2 separate regions of the Homo sapiens genome follow, and region 2 is linked to region 1. A link means that fine-mapping ties the variant in region 1 to the expression of a gene that starts in the linked region. Tissue or cell type: spleen. Region 1 holds a variant in brackets; the other region holds the start of a gene. All regions are shown on one strand. Distances are from middle to middle.

Region 1 (8,190 bases):
TAGTATAGGGATTTGCCTGGGGTCCATGTGACTGCACTGTTCCACGGAAGGAGTTCATGCAATATTACATCCCCAGGACCCAATCAACTGCAGCATGACATCATTTTGAGAACAGACCCAATACAAGACAACATTCTGCACCATGGCTTAATAGCCCCTGCATCTCCACATCCCTGGGGTCCCACTAGCATCCTCTCATATCCACCCAGAAGTCTGCAGCATCAGAGCATTAGCTGGACCGAGATGTGCAGTAAATCTGAACCCATGGAGCACTCTAAACCTGGAAGCAGGCATTCCTGCACATCAGACAGTCTGTGCTGAGAACATAGAGAATGGAAATACGCACTCCCCAGAACTTGAGAGCCGCCTTCCTGGGTCCACCACCACAAACAGTTACTCTGTTCCCTTCAGTAATTATATAAATAAAGTTTATAAGCTATTTTTAATTTTTAGTTATTTCTTTATAGTTAAACAGTTAATCTTTCAAGAAAAAAAATGAAATAACTCAGAAAAAAAATCAAAGAGTGAAGAAATCCTATATGACATATGGGACACAATCAAGTGAACAAAACCTCAAATGTTGGGAGTTCCAGAAGGTACAAACATGGCAAAAGGCATAGAAAACCGATTTAAAGATAATAGCTGAAAAGTTCTCATGTCTTCGAAGAGATGAAGACATTCATATGCGGGAAGATCAAAGAATCCCAAATAGACACAACCCAAAATGTCTTCTCGGAGGCACATTATACTCAAATTGTCAAAAGTCAAAGACAAAGAAAGAATTGTAAAAATGTCAAGAGGAAAGCATCAAGTCACATGAATCTCCATCAGATTAACAGCATATTTCTCAGCAAAAACCTCTAGGCCAAGAGAGAATGGGATAATATATTCAAAGCCCTGAAAGAAAAAGAAAAAACTGTCAGGCAAAAATACGATACCTAGCAAAGTTATCCTTCAGAAATGAAAGAGGAATAAAGTCTTTCCCAGAAAAACAAAATCTGAGCAAATTCATTATCACTAGACAGGCCTTTGAGAAATGCTTAAATGCACTTCCTGCATCTAGAAGTGAAAGGATGATATCTCCCATCACGAAAACACACAAAAGTATGAAACTCACTGGAAGAAGCAGATACACAAATGAGAAAAAGAGAGGAATCAAATGTCATCACTATAGAAAGCCATCAAATTGCAAAGATAAGCAATAAGAGAATAAGAAAGGAACAAGGATATACAAAACAATTAAAAGGCAATTAACAAAATAATAAGAAGTAGTTATCAATAACAGCCTTGAAAGTAAACATATTAAATCCCACAATTAAAAGGTTTTTTCCCAAGATGGTGGATTAGAGGCATTGTTAGCATGCCTCTCCTACTTGGAAAGACAAAATAGTGTCTAGACATACACAGTGTGAATTTTTTTCTAGTAAGCAGGCAAGAACTTAACAGGAAAACTGAAAGAAACCACAAACTCTTTGAAAGAAGTGGCAGGCTGCAGCCTACACAATGAGTCAGGCAGAAAACTGTAAGTCCTCAAAGTGTGAGGGGGGATAAACTGCCCCCAAGATATACACTGCGACGTGGGAACCTGACAATACAGGCCGGAGGGGAAGGCCTTAATTCTATCCAGCCCTGAAACTGGTTTAGGGAGTAGTGGGGAACAAAAAATTAGGAGCACCAGCACAAGAGCCTTGCATGCATTCCCAGCCTCCAGTGTGGACGAAGGAAGCCATTCCTGATCCTGCCTCCCAGGGGACCTCACAGAAGTCGGCCAGCTTATTCAGGCAGCAGTCACAGGTTAAGAAAAGCTTCTAACTAAAATTCATGATATTCTCTCGAGTGGGGATGAACTTTCTTTGCCAGAAGTGGGAGGTGAGTGAAAAGCGTGCTGCATCCATGAGTGCAGAAGCTGGGCACCCTGGCTTTGCTGGCAGACTGGGAAGGGCATGGCCTAAATGCCGCAGTTGCTGTCTCTGCCAGAAAGGCTTATGGCCTGGAGCAGTTTTGAGTTCTGAGCACAAACTGCCTGGAACTTAGCTAGCCGCTGCTAGTGGAACACTCTGGGCGTGAGGTTTGCCTTGCCAAGTACGTGGGACTGTGTGGGGCTTATGCCACCTGCTACTCCCCACTCCCTGTGTAAACTCTTCTGTGCAATAGAGGCAGCTGCACCCCTCCCTGGAACATTGTCCTAGTGGCAAGAGAACCACCCTCAACCCCCACAAGAGCCATTGTTTGCCTTGCATGTGGAGAGCCAGCACGTGGACCCGCCTGACCCAGCCTCCACCTGGTTTTGCCCCTCCACCTACCCTGGTAGCTTAACACAAAGGACGGAAACTTTTGGGAATTTTATGGCCCCTCCCATTGCCTGAGACACCACAGTACCCCCTGGGTAACATAAGGCAAGTATAAATCCCACTGCTACTACCGCAGCTGGTGCTCTTTTCCAAGCAACACCTCCAAGCTAGAGGCCAACTGACACAGTCAGTCCATTACAGCAGCTCCAGGAGGAGTAACAGAGCACCCAGGAAGAAGAACACTTGTGTGTGACCTCAGCTATCACCATTTCCCACAGTGTCCTGACTAACCAGTGGGTCCTAGTCTGTCCAGGTGAACAGTTCATTACTACCGTAACCAACATTTGAGAAAGCCAATATACTAAGCCTATTTATAACAAAGGAATCTCAGAGTCTACGTTACTCCCCTGCCACCCTCATCAGAGCTGGTGCTGGTACCCATTGCTGGGAGACTTGGGGACAGGTTACATCACTGATGGCTTTACTGACAAATTCTACCAAACTTTAAAAGAAGAATTAATACCATTTCTACTCAAACTATTTGCAAAAGTTGTAGAGGCAGGATCTCTCCCTAAGTCATTCTATGTGGCCAGCATTGCCCTCATACCAAAGCTAGACAAAGACACAACAAAAAAAGAAAACTACAAGCCAATATCTTGAATGAACACAGATGCAAAAATACTAGCAAACCAATTCCAACAACACAGCAAAAAGATAACACACCATGATCAAGTGGAATTTATCCCAGGGATGCAAGGATGGATTAATACACACAAATCAATAAATGGGATACACCACATGAACAGAATGAAGGACAAAAACCATATGATCATCTCAATAGACTCAGAAGTAGCATTTTACATGATTCAACGTGCCTTCATGATGAAACTGGATATACAAAGAAAATACCTCAACACAATAAAGACCATGTATGACAAATCCACAGCTAACATCATACTTATTAGGAGAAAAACCTGAAAGCCTTTCTTCTAAGAGCTAGAAGAAGACAGAGGTGTCCACTTTCAATACTTTTATTCAGCATAGTACTGGAAGCCCTAGCAAGAGCAATTAGGCGAGGGAAAGAAATAAAGTCCATTCAAATTGGAAAGGAAGAAGTTAAATCGTTCTTGTTTGCAAATGACATAATCTTATAATTAGAAAAACTGAAACACTCCAGCAAAAAAACTCTTGGCACTGATAAATGAATTGAGTAAAGTTTTAAGATACAAAATCAACATACAAACATCAGTAGCATTTATAGATGCCGATAGTGAACAATCTGGAAGAGAAATCAAGAAAGCAATCTCATTTGCAATAGCTACCAAAAATTTAAATAGCAAGGAATAAATTTAGCCAAAGAAGTGAAAAAGTTCTAAAATGAAAACTATAAAAAACTGATAAAAGAAGTTTGAGGACACAAACAAATGGAAAGATTTCTAATGTTTATGGATTGGAAGAATTATTATTGTTAAAATATTCATACTACCAAAAATAATCTATAGACTCAATATAATCCATATCAAAATGCCAGTGACATTCTTCACAGAAATAGAAAAAGAGTCCTAAAATTTGTATGGAACTACAAAAGACCTCACATAGCCAAAGCAATCCTAAGCAAAAAGAACAAAGCTGGAGATATCACACTACCTGACTTCCAAATTTACTGCAAAGCTTTGGTAACCAAACAGCGTGGTAGTGACATAAAAATAGGCACACAGACCAACAGAACAAAATAGAGAATCCCAAAACAAATCCATACATTTACAGTCAACTCACTTTCAACAAAGGCAGCAAGAACATATGTTGGGGAAAGGACAGTCTCTTCAATAAATAGTGCTGGGAAAAATAGATATCCATATGCAGAAGAATGAACTGGATGCCCCATCTCTCACCATATAAAAAATCAAATTAAAATGGATCAAAAACTTAAATATAAGACCTGGAACTATAAAATTACTAGAAGAAAATACTGGGGAAATGCTTCAGGACATTGATCTGGGCAATGGTTTGTTTGTGTAAAACCTCAAAAGCACAGGCAACAAAAGCAAAAATAGATAAATGAGATTATATCAATTCAAAAAGTTTCTGCATAACAAAGGAAACAACAGAGTGAAAAGACAGCCCACACAATGGGAGAAAATATTCGCAAACT[A/C]GACATCCAATAGGGAATTTCTGACCAGAATATATAAGAATTTGACTAAACAGCAAAAAAAAAAAAAAAAGACGATTAAAAAATGGGCAAAGAACTGGAATAGACATTTCTCTAAAGAAACCATTTAAATGTTTGAAACATATATGAAAAAATGCTCAGCATCACCAGTCATGGGAGAAATGCAAACTAAAATCACAGTGGGATGTTGACTCACACCTGTTTGAATAGCGATTATCAAAGTGATGAAAGATAGGTGTGAAGGATGTAAAGAAAAGAGAGTTCTTGCACCCTGTTGGTGGGAATGTAAATTAGTACAGTCATTATCGAAAACAGCATGGAGATTCCCCCCAAAATTAAAAATATGACCACCTTATGATTCAGTAATCCTACTCCTGGGTGTATATGCAAAGGAATTTAAATTGGTATATTGAAGAGATATCTGCACTGCCATGCAGCATTATCCACAACAGCCAAGAAATGGAATCAACCCAGGCGCCCGTAAACAGATAAAGAGATAAAGAAAATATTGTATTTTTAGTAGAGATGGGGTTTCACCATGTTGGCCAGGCTGGTCTCGAACTCCTGGCCTCAGATGATCCACCTGCCTTGGCCTCCCAAAGTGCTGGGATTACAGGCATCAGCCAGGCGTGGTGGCCCATGCCTGTTATCCCAGCTACTTGGGAGGCTGAGGCAGGAGAATCGCTTGAACTCAGGAGGCGGAGGTTGCGGTGAGCCGAGATCGCGCCATTGTACTCCAGCCTGGCCGACAAGAGTGAAAGTCTGTCTCAAAAAAAAAAAAAAAAGGAAAGAAAAAGAAAATATTGTATATATACATAAACATTTCTCCGAAGAAAATATTCAACATTGTGTTTGTGTATTTATGTGTGGGTAGACACTATGTATGTATATAGATACACAATGAAGTAGTATGAACCTTTAAAAAAGAAGAAAATCCTGTTATTTGTGACAACGTAGATAAACCTGGAGGACATTATATTAAGATAAATAAGCCAGGCCCAGAAAAAGAAATACTGCATGATCTTATGTATATGTAGAGTCTAGAAAAGTTGAACTAACAGAAGTAAAAAATAGCATGGTGGTCTCCAGGGGCTGAGTATGTGGGAAGTTTGGGGAAATGTTGGTCAAAAGGTAAAAAGTTTGAGTTAGGAGGAATTCGTTTAAGAGATCTATTATACAACCTGGTGACTATAGTTAGTAACAATGTATTGTATTCTTGAAAATTACTGAAACAATAGATTTCATGTGTTCTCATCACAAAAAAGATAAGTATGTGATGTAATGCATATGTTGATTAGCTGTCTATAGCCATTCCACACTGCATACATATTTCAATACAACATCTTACACACGACAGATATATACAATTTTTGTCAATTAAAAATAAAACAAAATAGCTGAGCGCAGTGGGTCATGCCTGTAATCCCAGCCCTTTTAGGGAGGCTGAGGTGGGCAGATCACCTGAGGTCAGGAGTTTGAGACCAGCCTGGCCAACATGGTGAAAACCTGTCTCTACGAAAAATACAAAAATTAGCCTAGCTGGGTGTGGTGGCGGGTGCCTGTAGTCCCAGCTCCTCAGGAGGCTGAGACAGGAGAATCACTTGAACCCGGGAGGTGGAGGTTGCAGTGAGCCGAGATCGCACCACTGCACTCCAGCTTGGGGGACAGAGCGAGACTCTGACTCGAAAAAAAAAATTAAATAAATAAATAAATAAAATAAAATGCCAGAAGAAGAAACAAGTAACTTAGCTATAAGGAAAAACAACCAAAAAGAGAAGCCATAAAGTTTTCCCTGTGGGTACAACACTGGGGTGGGTTGGAAAGGGACACAGTAGTAAGGCATTGGGGTACTATTGCTTTTTATTACAATGCTTTTAAAAATCATGGTTTTGGTTTGGTTTTTTGTGGTGGGGGGGGATTCTGTTTGTTAGTTTGTTTTGAGACAGGGTCTCTCTTTGTCACCCAGGCTGGAGTGCAGTGACGTGATCTCAGCTCACTGCAGCCTCAACCTCCCAGGCTCAAACAATCCTCCTGTCAGCCTCACGAGTAGCTGGGTCCACAGGCATGCACCACCCACCTGGCTAATTTTTTGTATTTTTTGTAGAGACAGGGTTTTGCAATGTTGCCCAGGCTGGTCTCGAACCCCTGGGCTCAAGCAGTCCACCCACCTGGCCTCCCAAAGTTCTAGGATTATAGATGTGAGCCACCGCACCGGACCTAAAAACTCCTTTAAATATTAGTTTGCATCACTTTGATAAAAATACATTTTTAACAGTCAAATGGACTTCTGCATCCCAAGCAGATCTGGGATGTGAAGTCAGGTTTCATGTGTGAGTGACATTGCTGCTCCTTTTTTGTGTGTGAATTTTTTTTTGTTTTTTTCTTTAGTTTTATTTTCTTTTTCTTCCTATTTTGGTCATGTCAGAGAAAAAAACCACAGAATAGCTCAGAAAATTTCACTTTTACCCCCACTTCTTTCCTCCTTTCTCCTTACATCACGCGCACACACACACACACACATGCACACACACACGTCTCTGTATGAACTTGGCTGCCCAAGGCCTTCCTAGCCCTCTCTCCTTTCCTTTCAGAAGTTAATTTTCTGACACCTTCTTCCACAGTGCCCTTTCAGCTATTTTGTTCCTAGACAGTTCACAGCAGTCCATCCTCATATCTCTAATGCCTGGCTCCTGGTAGTTTCTGGGCTTGTATTTATTACTCCCTGAAAAACACACAGGGAGCCTACCAGCATCTCTGCCACTCACCACGTGCTCCTAGACCCTCGGCTCCCTCTGGCCTCCAGACTCAGCTCATCGACTACAACCCTCTCTGCTTCCTCTCCTGAGGTGCCTCAGGAGCCTTGCATCCTTCCCCAGGCACAGTAGGGGGACTTAGCTCCTGACTTGGGCCCCACCATCCTGCTTCCCACTGCTGTCCTAAGGTGGGAAGCTCAGACGGCTGCACCAGGAGGCAGGCCCGGTGTTCCTGTCTGTGGCTGCTTTAGTTTGTTTTAATCATCTTTATAATGAAAACTAACTTGGTGGTGGGGATGTTTTGCAGGGGAATTCGTTATATTGGCACTTATTGTTTCTAGTCGGACTACCATGTTACATTAATGTTAGCTTTATCACCTATTATTCCAAGTTTTCTTATTCATGATTTTAGTCCTTATTTACTTTGGATGGCACAGCTAATGGCATCATTCAATTTTGATTTGTTGAAGATAGTTGTTCTGATACTCAAAGCTACAGAAATTTTTTTAAGTCTTCTGTTTCATTGTCATTTGATGTGAGCTGATACCAGTTGAATCTCTGAAACTCTGTTTCACACACATTTATTTATTTCGACAACCCAACTTCATTTTAAAATAAATGTTGTTTTTTTAAAGCTGCTTTACAAATTTTTGTTTTATTTTGAAACAGTCATATAAACTCCCAGGAAATTGCAAAAATTGTTGAGTCTTGAGTACCCTTCACCAAGCTTTCTCCAATGGTAACAATTTTTTAAAATTAAGGCAATGGCAACATCTTATGTAGCTTTGCTATGGCACAATATTGAAACCAGGAGATTGATATTGATATAAATATGTTAACTAGACTCCAGGCCTGATTCACATGTTAGCAGTTTTTACATGCATTCATTTGTGTGTGTGTGTGTGTGTGTGTGTGTGTGTGCACATGCATGTGGTTCTGTGCAATTTTATTAGATATATAAATTCAAGTAACCACC
Region 2 (8,190 bases), 31 kb before region 1:
CACATCTCATGTGAGATGAGGTGAGGTATGTGCTATCAATATTCCCACATTCAACATGAGGAAACCCTGTCTCTGGGGATGAGTTATTCAGGGGCCTGAGAGGCACCTTCCAAATGCAGACTCCCTGACTGGAGGAGAATCTATCTCCACGTGCTCTCCTCTCTGCCCATCTGCTTAATGAACACTCACACCACCCCCTTTGCATCTTCTATGCTAAAAACCTTTTTTAATGACCCAGGAGGGGAGTAAGTGGCCATAAAATATCGAATTTGGGAAAATTTATTTCCTTCAAATAGATGATTACATCTTGTAAATGTTTTATGGATACAAGAAAGGAATATATATTCTCCGCTGAAGCACATTTATTTGTGCTTCTTTTTTTTAAGTAGACTTCTGCCATATTCTGAAGGACATGGTGTGACACAGTGAGGAGATTTTGTAGTTTTTATTTCAGAGATTTGCCCTTTAGTGCACTGATGTTGTGACATATCTTTTCCATGACACCTACATTTTACTCCAGGTAATAATTTTATGTTTTTCCACTTTATTATTTCGTGCTTGAATAGTACTTCGTCTAGCAAAAGTTTGTCCAAGCCACAGCCTGTGGGCTGCATGAGACTCAGGACGGCTTTGAATACGGTCCAACACAAATTCTTAAACTTTCTTAAAACATTATAAGATTTTTTGTGATTTTTTTTCATTCATTAGTTATCGTTAGTGTTAGTTCTTCTTTCAATATGGCCCAGGGAAGGCAAAAGATTGGACACCCCCACTCTAGTGCTTTATCAACATGGCTTACCTGTTTTGTTTTGTTTGTATTTTCTTGGTACAGCTTTGTCTTGATCTTCACTTGAAACTGTCTTCATCTTGCTGCAAGTGACATAACTGTTTGTTTTCTGCGAGCCTTCCCTGCACGACTTTTAGCTTCATGAGGACAGAGTGTGTGTGTTTCCCTCAGCACAGGATTCCCCATGCCCAGCATGGAGAATGGGCTCCACAGACAGGGATTATGCCTAGGAATGGTGAGCGCTACTTTCTTTTTGCATTTGCTTCTTGGTTTTGTGGTCAACTAAGTAATTTTTCTGGTGCAAATCACACTTACAACTCTGTATGATTAGAGTTCTTCTTAGAGAGACCACAAACGATGGAGGCCCACTCCCTTCACCTTCTAAGTACCCACCCCCTTTGATTGGCAGTGTCTCTTGATTCATTCACATGTATCCATTTATGGTATATGGATATATCTGTGTGTGGTATCTGCATGTGCATCAGAGGCAAAGTGGATCCCATGTGTGAATTTCCAGATAAGTGGATATTTTTAATTTTAGCACTAATTATTTCTAAGTTTAAGTACATTTTATAAATCTTGCTGAAATGTATTTCACTCATGCATCTTTAAGAGCATTATTAAGTGAGGCGTGACTTTGCAGCCTGGTGTCAGACCAGCTGCTGACCTGGTGTAGCAGATGTTGAGGCCCTGCTCCTCACCACCCAACCCTGAGTCCCCCTGGAATGGGATGGGCACTTGCCTGCCTGCTGACAGCTCCGCCCCTGGAGCCTGGCCTCTGCCTCTCTGCTGATGGCTTCTTGCAACCTTTGGAACCTCCTCAGCCCAGGCACAGGGTGGCCAAGAAGGTTTGCGATTTTAATAGTCCCGGAGGGGCACATCTCACCCAGTGGGGAACAGGAAGCAGTGGATGTTGGGAAGATCCTGAGCCATCGTCTATACAGTTCCTCCAAAGGACCCAGTGGGACTGGGTCCCAGTTGCCACCGCAGCAACCTGCTCATTAGCGCACCCTCTATGGCTTACCTCCCGCTGGCTTCACTCTCTGCACCCTGTCACTTTTGTTTCTGAGAACAGTCTGCTAAACAAACCACCTGCAGAAAGGCCCTTGCTCTAGATCAGCTTTTGGGACCCAGCCTGTCAGCTGGGCTGCTGTGAGTGCTGCCTTCAAGGCTGTGTGAGACTCTCAAGCCAGGCAAACAGTTTTTAGTATATGTCTGTTTCTCCGGCCAGCCTTGCTGCTGTCATTTGTCTTGCCGACAGCGTCTCCCTTTACTCCTTCCCCTGGGGAGAAGCAAGGAATGACACTGTCTGTTGTCGCAACATACTGTGCCCCAGCGGAGCTCCGTGCTGGACGCTCTACATGCACGAGTTCACGCAATCCACACAGCAGCCCTTCAGCCACAGGAATGTCACAGATGTGATCTTATTATCTCTATGTCATCATAAGCAAAAATTGATGCTAATAGAAGTTATTAGCCACAAGCTCATAGAGAAAAGGAAAGTTTTAAAAATAGTGTTACTTCCTCTAAGGTCATTTCCAGCATGCCCTGCTGCCTCATGCAGAAACAGAAAGCAGACAGAAAGGCTTGTCAGAAAATGGGTGAGAATGTACTTAAACGGAGGCTGTCTTGTGAGTAACATACGTGGATTGTGATTTTTTGTTTTTGTTTTTTTGAGACAAAGTCTCACTCTGTCACCCAGGTTGGAGTGCAGTGGCACGATCTTGGCACACTGCAACCTCCGCCTCCTGGGTTTAAGTGATTCTCGTGCCTCAGCCTCCCGAGTAGCTGGGACTACAGGCGCTCACCACCATGCCCGGCTAATTTTTGTGTTTTTAGTAGAGATGGGGTTTCACCATGTTGGCCAGGCTAGTCTCAAACTCCTGACCTCAGGTGATCCACCCACCTCAGCCTCCCAAAGTGCTGGGATTACAGGTGTGAGCCACCACGCCCTCTGAGCACACATGGATTTTGATCCCCTTATTTCTGTTTTGTTGGCTTTGTTTAGCAAAACAGTCATAGGTAGACAAATAGCAGGATGGAACTGTTCCAGACAGAAAGTGAACACAGTCAAATGAACTTTTTGTGGCTTAACACTGACCACCCAGAATCCAGTGTTCTACTCCAGCCCCTATCTCTCCCTGCAAAATTTATTTGATTACTGAATATCCTATACACCAGGCTTTGTCTTGATGGTTACTAGAAGGAGAAAGAAGAGTGGGTTTCTGCCTAGACTATGCCAGGTTCCAACTTACTCCTCACTTAAAGGTCTGGTGCTCTACCCCATAACTACAGGTGTTTCTAACTCAGCATGTGCATAACTGGACACATTGTCTTTTTCTCCAAACATCCTAAACAGTGCCACCTTCCACCCAGGCACCCAAGTCAAAAACCTGGGGATTTTATTAGAGACTTCCCCTGCCTAAGCCCCACAGCCCACCTGGGGAGAACAATGTGTTTACCTTGGCGTTCTCAATGTGTTCCCTCCCTGCTCCCAGGGCCTGCTCCCATTATTCTGAGCTACTGTGATAGTGCCCAAGTCCTTGAGAAACAGCCCAAGGAGTCTTCCTCAATTCCTGCTGCCCTGTGCTTCCCACAGCTCCTGGCATTGGTAGTTTCCAGCCTGAGGCCAGGAGAAGCTGGAGAATGCAAGCACCAAAGATTCCTGCATCTCACTGTGCTGAGATCATTGTCATGAATGAACTCAAAATATTATTCAACAAGGAGAAAAACAACAGTCCAAACTGAAAGGCTTACCTGACACCAGCTCGTAGAAACTGAGAACCAAAATGAGCACAAAAGCCATGGATATTCCTGTGGGTTGATCTCACACTATGAAAACAGATGACAGCAGGGGTGGATGGATGATTTGGAGGTCAGGCCAGCTGTCTCAGGCGCAGGAGCCGTGGAGAGGCTCTTCATGAACGATGTCAAACTGTGCATTTCTCCCTAGAGCCTCCCTAAACATGGCTGTATGAATGAGGAGTATGGGCACTGGAGTTTGAGTCACTGCATTTATTGGCAGGTCATAAACATCTATCTCAGACCAGAGAAATGATAATGGAAAGAGAGTAGGGTACACTTGGAGGGACTTTGTTCTGGGTTGTGCCCCACATAGGTGGTAAAGGAATGCCAGATGCAGAGATATTTTCAGGCTTAGTCTGGCAGGCAGAGCTGCAAGAGAGAGTGAACATCTGTCCCTGAAAGAGAGATTGGACGGGCGCAGTGGCTCATGCCTGTAATCCCAGCACTTTGGGAAGCCAAGGCAGGTGAATCACGAGGTCAAGAGATCGAGATCATCCTGGCCAACATGATGAAACCCCGTCTCTACTGAAAATACAAAAATCAGCCAGGCATGGTGGTGCGCACCTGTAGTCCCACCTACTTGGGCGGCTGAGGCAGGAGAATTGCTTGAACCGGGAAGAGGGAGGTTGCAGTGAGCCCAGATTGCACTACTACACTCCAGTCTGGTGACAGAGTGAGGCTCTATCTCAGAAAAAAAAAAAAAAAAAAAAAAAAAAAGAGATCATCTCAGCACAGGGTAGTGAGGCAGTGAATTTGCCCAGGCACACAGGCCATGCCCCATGAGACTCATATTTCCTGGCACAGCATGAGGTAATTCTGCCCATCCCTCCCTTGTCTTGAGTTCAGGGACAGGACTCTGATCATGAGGCCAGATTGTGTTGAACTTGCCAGAACAACCAGGACCTTGATCTCCAAGGATCCAAGGTATTGAGAAGGGGACCAAGACGATGTTTCAGGCCCGGGGGTAAGGCAAAGGCAAAGATGCATTCATTCAGTCATTCATTAGATGCACTAAGCCAGGACACACACAGTTAGGGATTATGCAGTGATTTCAAGTCTAGGGACATGCACAAAGAATAAGCACTTACTAGATCAGAAAGCAGGTTTCCACGGAGAGCACCACGAAGGACAACGAAGGTAAAGAGCAATTTAAAAAGAGGAAACCCCATGAACTTAGAAATTGTTAATAACACAATTTTAAATAACTAATGGGTCTAAGAGAACTAATAATAGAAGTTGAAGGTAATTAGACTAGAAGAAGAATGAAAACACTACATTTAAAATACTATGATGCATGTAAGGCAGTTCTTACAGAAAGGCTTATCCTTAAGTGCTTGTATTAGGAAAAAAGAAGTCTGAAATTGGCTGAACAAAGCATCTGAGTTAATCAGAGTTAACTCTTGGATCCTGAGGGTCTCTGGCCACTCGCCTTGTCTTTTCTCTCCCTTCACTTTTCTTTTTTTTTCCCCCACAATCTGTAAACATGTAATCCTACCTTAAGTACAAAGCCATTACAAATGCAAAAAAATCAAAGATTACAAGTCAATTTCTTTCTGCCTACAGTAATAGCTGAAATGTAAAGAGATCAACTTCAGAAAAAAATACATTGAAAAACATACCACTTTAATAAGACAAAACTGCAAATTAGATGAATAGAAATTAGGTAGATCCATTTATTTTTTAAATACAAGTATAATTTTGGAAGAGCTATTTGACAAATTCAGCATTAACTGCCAACTCTGTAGACATGTTTAACAACAACAACAAAACAAGACATTTACTCTTGGCCCTTTTAGTACAGGTGAAGTGTCCTATTGCATCACAAGTATTAGTAATGAAGTAACAGATCCAAGGGCATAATATTAAAGATGTTTTTTTCCAATTGCGATTTAGTTGAAAAATAACATAATACGAACATATATGAATGGCTATCAAGACCACCAGTGATCTGCAGAATACCTAGAGGCCTACGTACTTAGAAGGCTGAAACTAGTAAAACAGTATTAAAATCAGTGTTTTTATTCTAAGATGAGCAATGACAGAGTGAGATTTCTGATTCCAATTTTATAAGGTGCGGTGGGGAGTTGAGAGGAGATATTGGGGAAGACTGGCACTTTGTGCTGAGTTAGAGATGGGAATGTGGCTCAAATTAGTTAATATTCAGAGTAGGATATTGTTTTAGAAAATTTTAAATGCATTCTAAATTGTGGCATATTGAAAAGGATATTAAGGAACAATGATTCATTAGCCCTAAACACAATTTAGTGAGTGCCATCAGTAGGCTTAAGAAATAAGCAGGGATGGCAGATGATGAGGCAAAATGAGGTGAAATAGAAAATGGAAAGTGGAAAATATGCTTGAACATTGGAGAATGTGAAAAGACCACTAAAGAAACTGCTTTGGTGATCACTCAGAAGTGCTCTTCCCATTGGCTACCCGCTCCTGATCACCTCTTCCCATTGGCTACCCGCTCCTGATCACCTCTTCCCATTGGCTACCTGCTCCTGATCACCTCTTCCCATTGGCTACCCACTCCTGATCACCCAAACACCAATTTTAGAGCACAGCAGCAGTAACTCCCTTTATCTGCAATTTCACTTTCCATAGTTTGTTACCCGAGGCAACCTTGGTCCAAACATATTATGTGGAAAATTCCAGAAATAAACCATGTTTTAAATCACAAGCTGGTTGTGCACTGTGGCTCATTCCTGTAATCTCAGCACCTTGGGAGGCCGAGGAGGGCGGATCACCTAAGGTCATGAGCTCGAGACCAGCCTGGCCAACATGGTGAGACCCTGTCTCTACTAAAAATACAAAAATTAGCTGGGCATGTTGGCGGGCGCCTGCATTCCCAGCTACCTGGGAGGCTGAGGCAGAAGAACTGCTTGAACCCAGGAGGCAGAGGCTGCAGTGAGCCAAGGTCGCACCACTACTCCAGGCTGGGTGATAGAGCGAGACTCCCTCTCAAAAAAAAAAAATAATAATAAAATAAATCACAAGCCATGTAGTGATGAAATCTCATGATCCTCCTCCTCTGTCCTGCCTGGGATGTGAATCATCCCTTTGTCCTGCTTATCCACACAGGTTGTATACAACCTGCCCCTTAGTCGCTTAGTAGCCGCCTTGGTTGTCAGATTGAAAAAACATAGACTATACAGGGTTTAGTACTATCTGAGGTTTCAGGCATCTACTAGGGGTCTCGGACTGTATCTCTTGCAGATAAGGGGAGACTACTGTATTACATTTCAGCTTCCATAAAACTTTACTAATTCGGATTAAGAACACAAGCCTGATTTTGTAAAAAGCATCCATAAATATTCAGAGGTATAGTTTTGCTTCATCAAGTAAAAAGAGCAACTAATTCCAACTGTTGAAGTAGTAACAAGTAAAGGCTTCACCAGGCTTGCCTTGATGAATAGTTAAGACACATTTTCAGGTCAACAGCACAAGATTATTGAATAACTTTTATGCTACAAACGCTGCTTCCACTCATCGAAACAACCCAACAATCCTTACTATTCCAATTTGCTGAGAACCATGTCGGATGCTGCCTTCAAGAATGAAATGTTCCTCAAAACTGTTCTATCAAAGGCAGTAGCTATTGGACATAAAACAGGTGATTTATTTCAGACTTTAGTTAGTTTTCATGAAGTCTTCATCTCCAACTTCAGTTTATTCCAACATTAATTTATGATAGGACAGTTATTAAAATTAGCCATTTCTCAGACTATAGCTTTGAAATAATAAGAAAGGGACAATTGGGCTCACTAGTCAAAATCTTGATTCAAGTGATGATCCAATAGCTTACAAATGTCTTCAATAAACTGAGCTTTGGGGCAGGATGAAAAACAGAAAAATGTAAAACCTCTCTATCGCAATCACCAATAATGGAGGCTAGGCAATTACACCTACAAATCCTTAACGACAGACCTCTCCTAATGACAAACCCTGAGACTTGAGCACTGTGACTTACAGAAGGCCGGTTGGCTTAATGAGGAAATTTACTTTTAATAAAAAGACAATCAGCAATATTTTATTTTGGGCACTTAGTGTTTCACAGATCCTCAATACGTTTTGAGGTAGGTCAAATATTAATAGTGTATTTTACAAACAAAACTCAAGCAGTTGTTTTGTTACTTGTCCCAAACCACAGGAGCAGTTCTATCGTGGTCAGGAATAACAGGGTCTCTCTGACCTTTCAGATTAATCTTTCATGTGTGAAGTTAAGCGTAATCACTTGCAAATATTCGTGAAAAAAACCCAGAAGACTAGATATAGAAATTCTACTTTGGGATATTTTAAACTTCTTAAATTGATCCTATAATGAGTATATACTTGCTCTCATTACAAATATCTATATCTCTGATCTTTACAATTACAAATGAGCACAGGAGTGACTATGTTGCTTTTCTGCCTTTCGGGGTGAGTAGAGCAGGAAGATAATCAGTAAGCTTTCCTCAGAGCACTAGGCAGCCTTTAACTGAAGGTGCTATGTTGGAGGCACCATTGACTATGATTTGGGATCATAGGAGAGCAGGTATACTAATGGAACCAGGATTCAGAAAAGATGCCTGGATCCAAAAAGAGGAGGCTCTCTG

Evidence for each region. PIP is the estimated chance that this variant, and not a neighbour inherited with it, causes the effect.
Region 2: BTNL3 starts here. The variant in region 1 is fine-mapped to the expression of BTNL3 in spleen (GTEx, PIP above 0.99).

What each region holds. Positions count from the first base shown.
Region 1 is chr5:180,953,721-180,961,910 of GRCh38, reverse strand. No RefSeq gene overlaps it. Among named protein-coding and RNA genes, the nearest start is that of BTNL3, 31 kb to the left of the region's middle. The variant A/C (reference allele first, on the strand shown) is at 4,444.
Region 2 is chr5:180,984,432-180,992,621 of GRCh38, reverse strand. It overlaps BTNL3 (butyrophilin like 3), which reads right to left and starts at 3,776. Exons shown (of 8, transcript NM_197975.3): 1 at 3,545-3,776. The coding sequence starts at 3,593. It also overlaps the pseudogene ARPP19P1.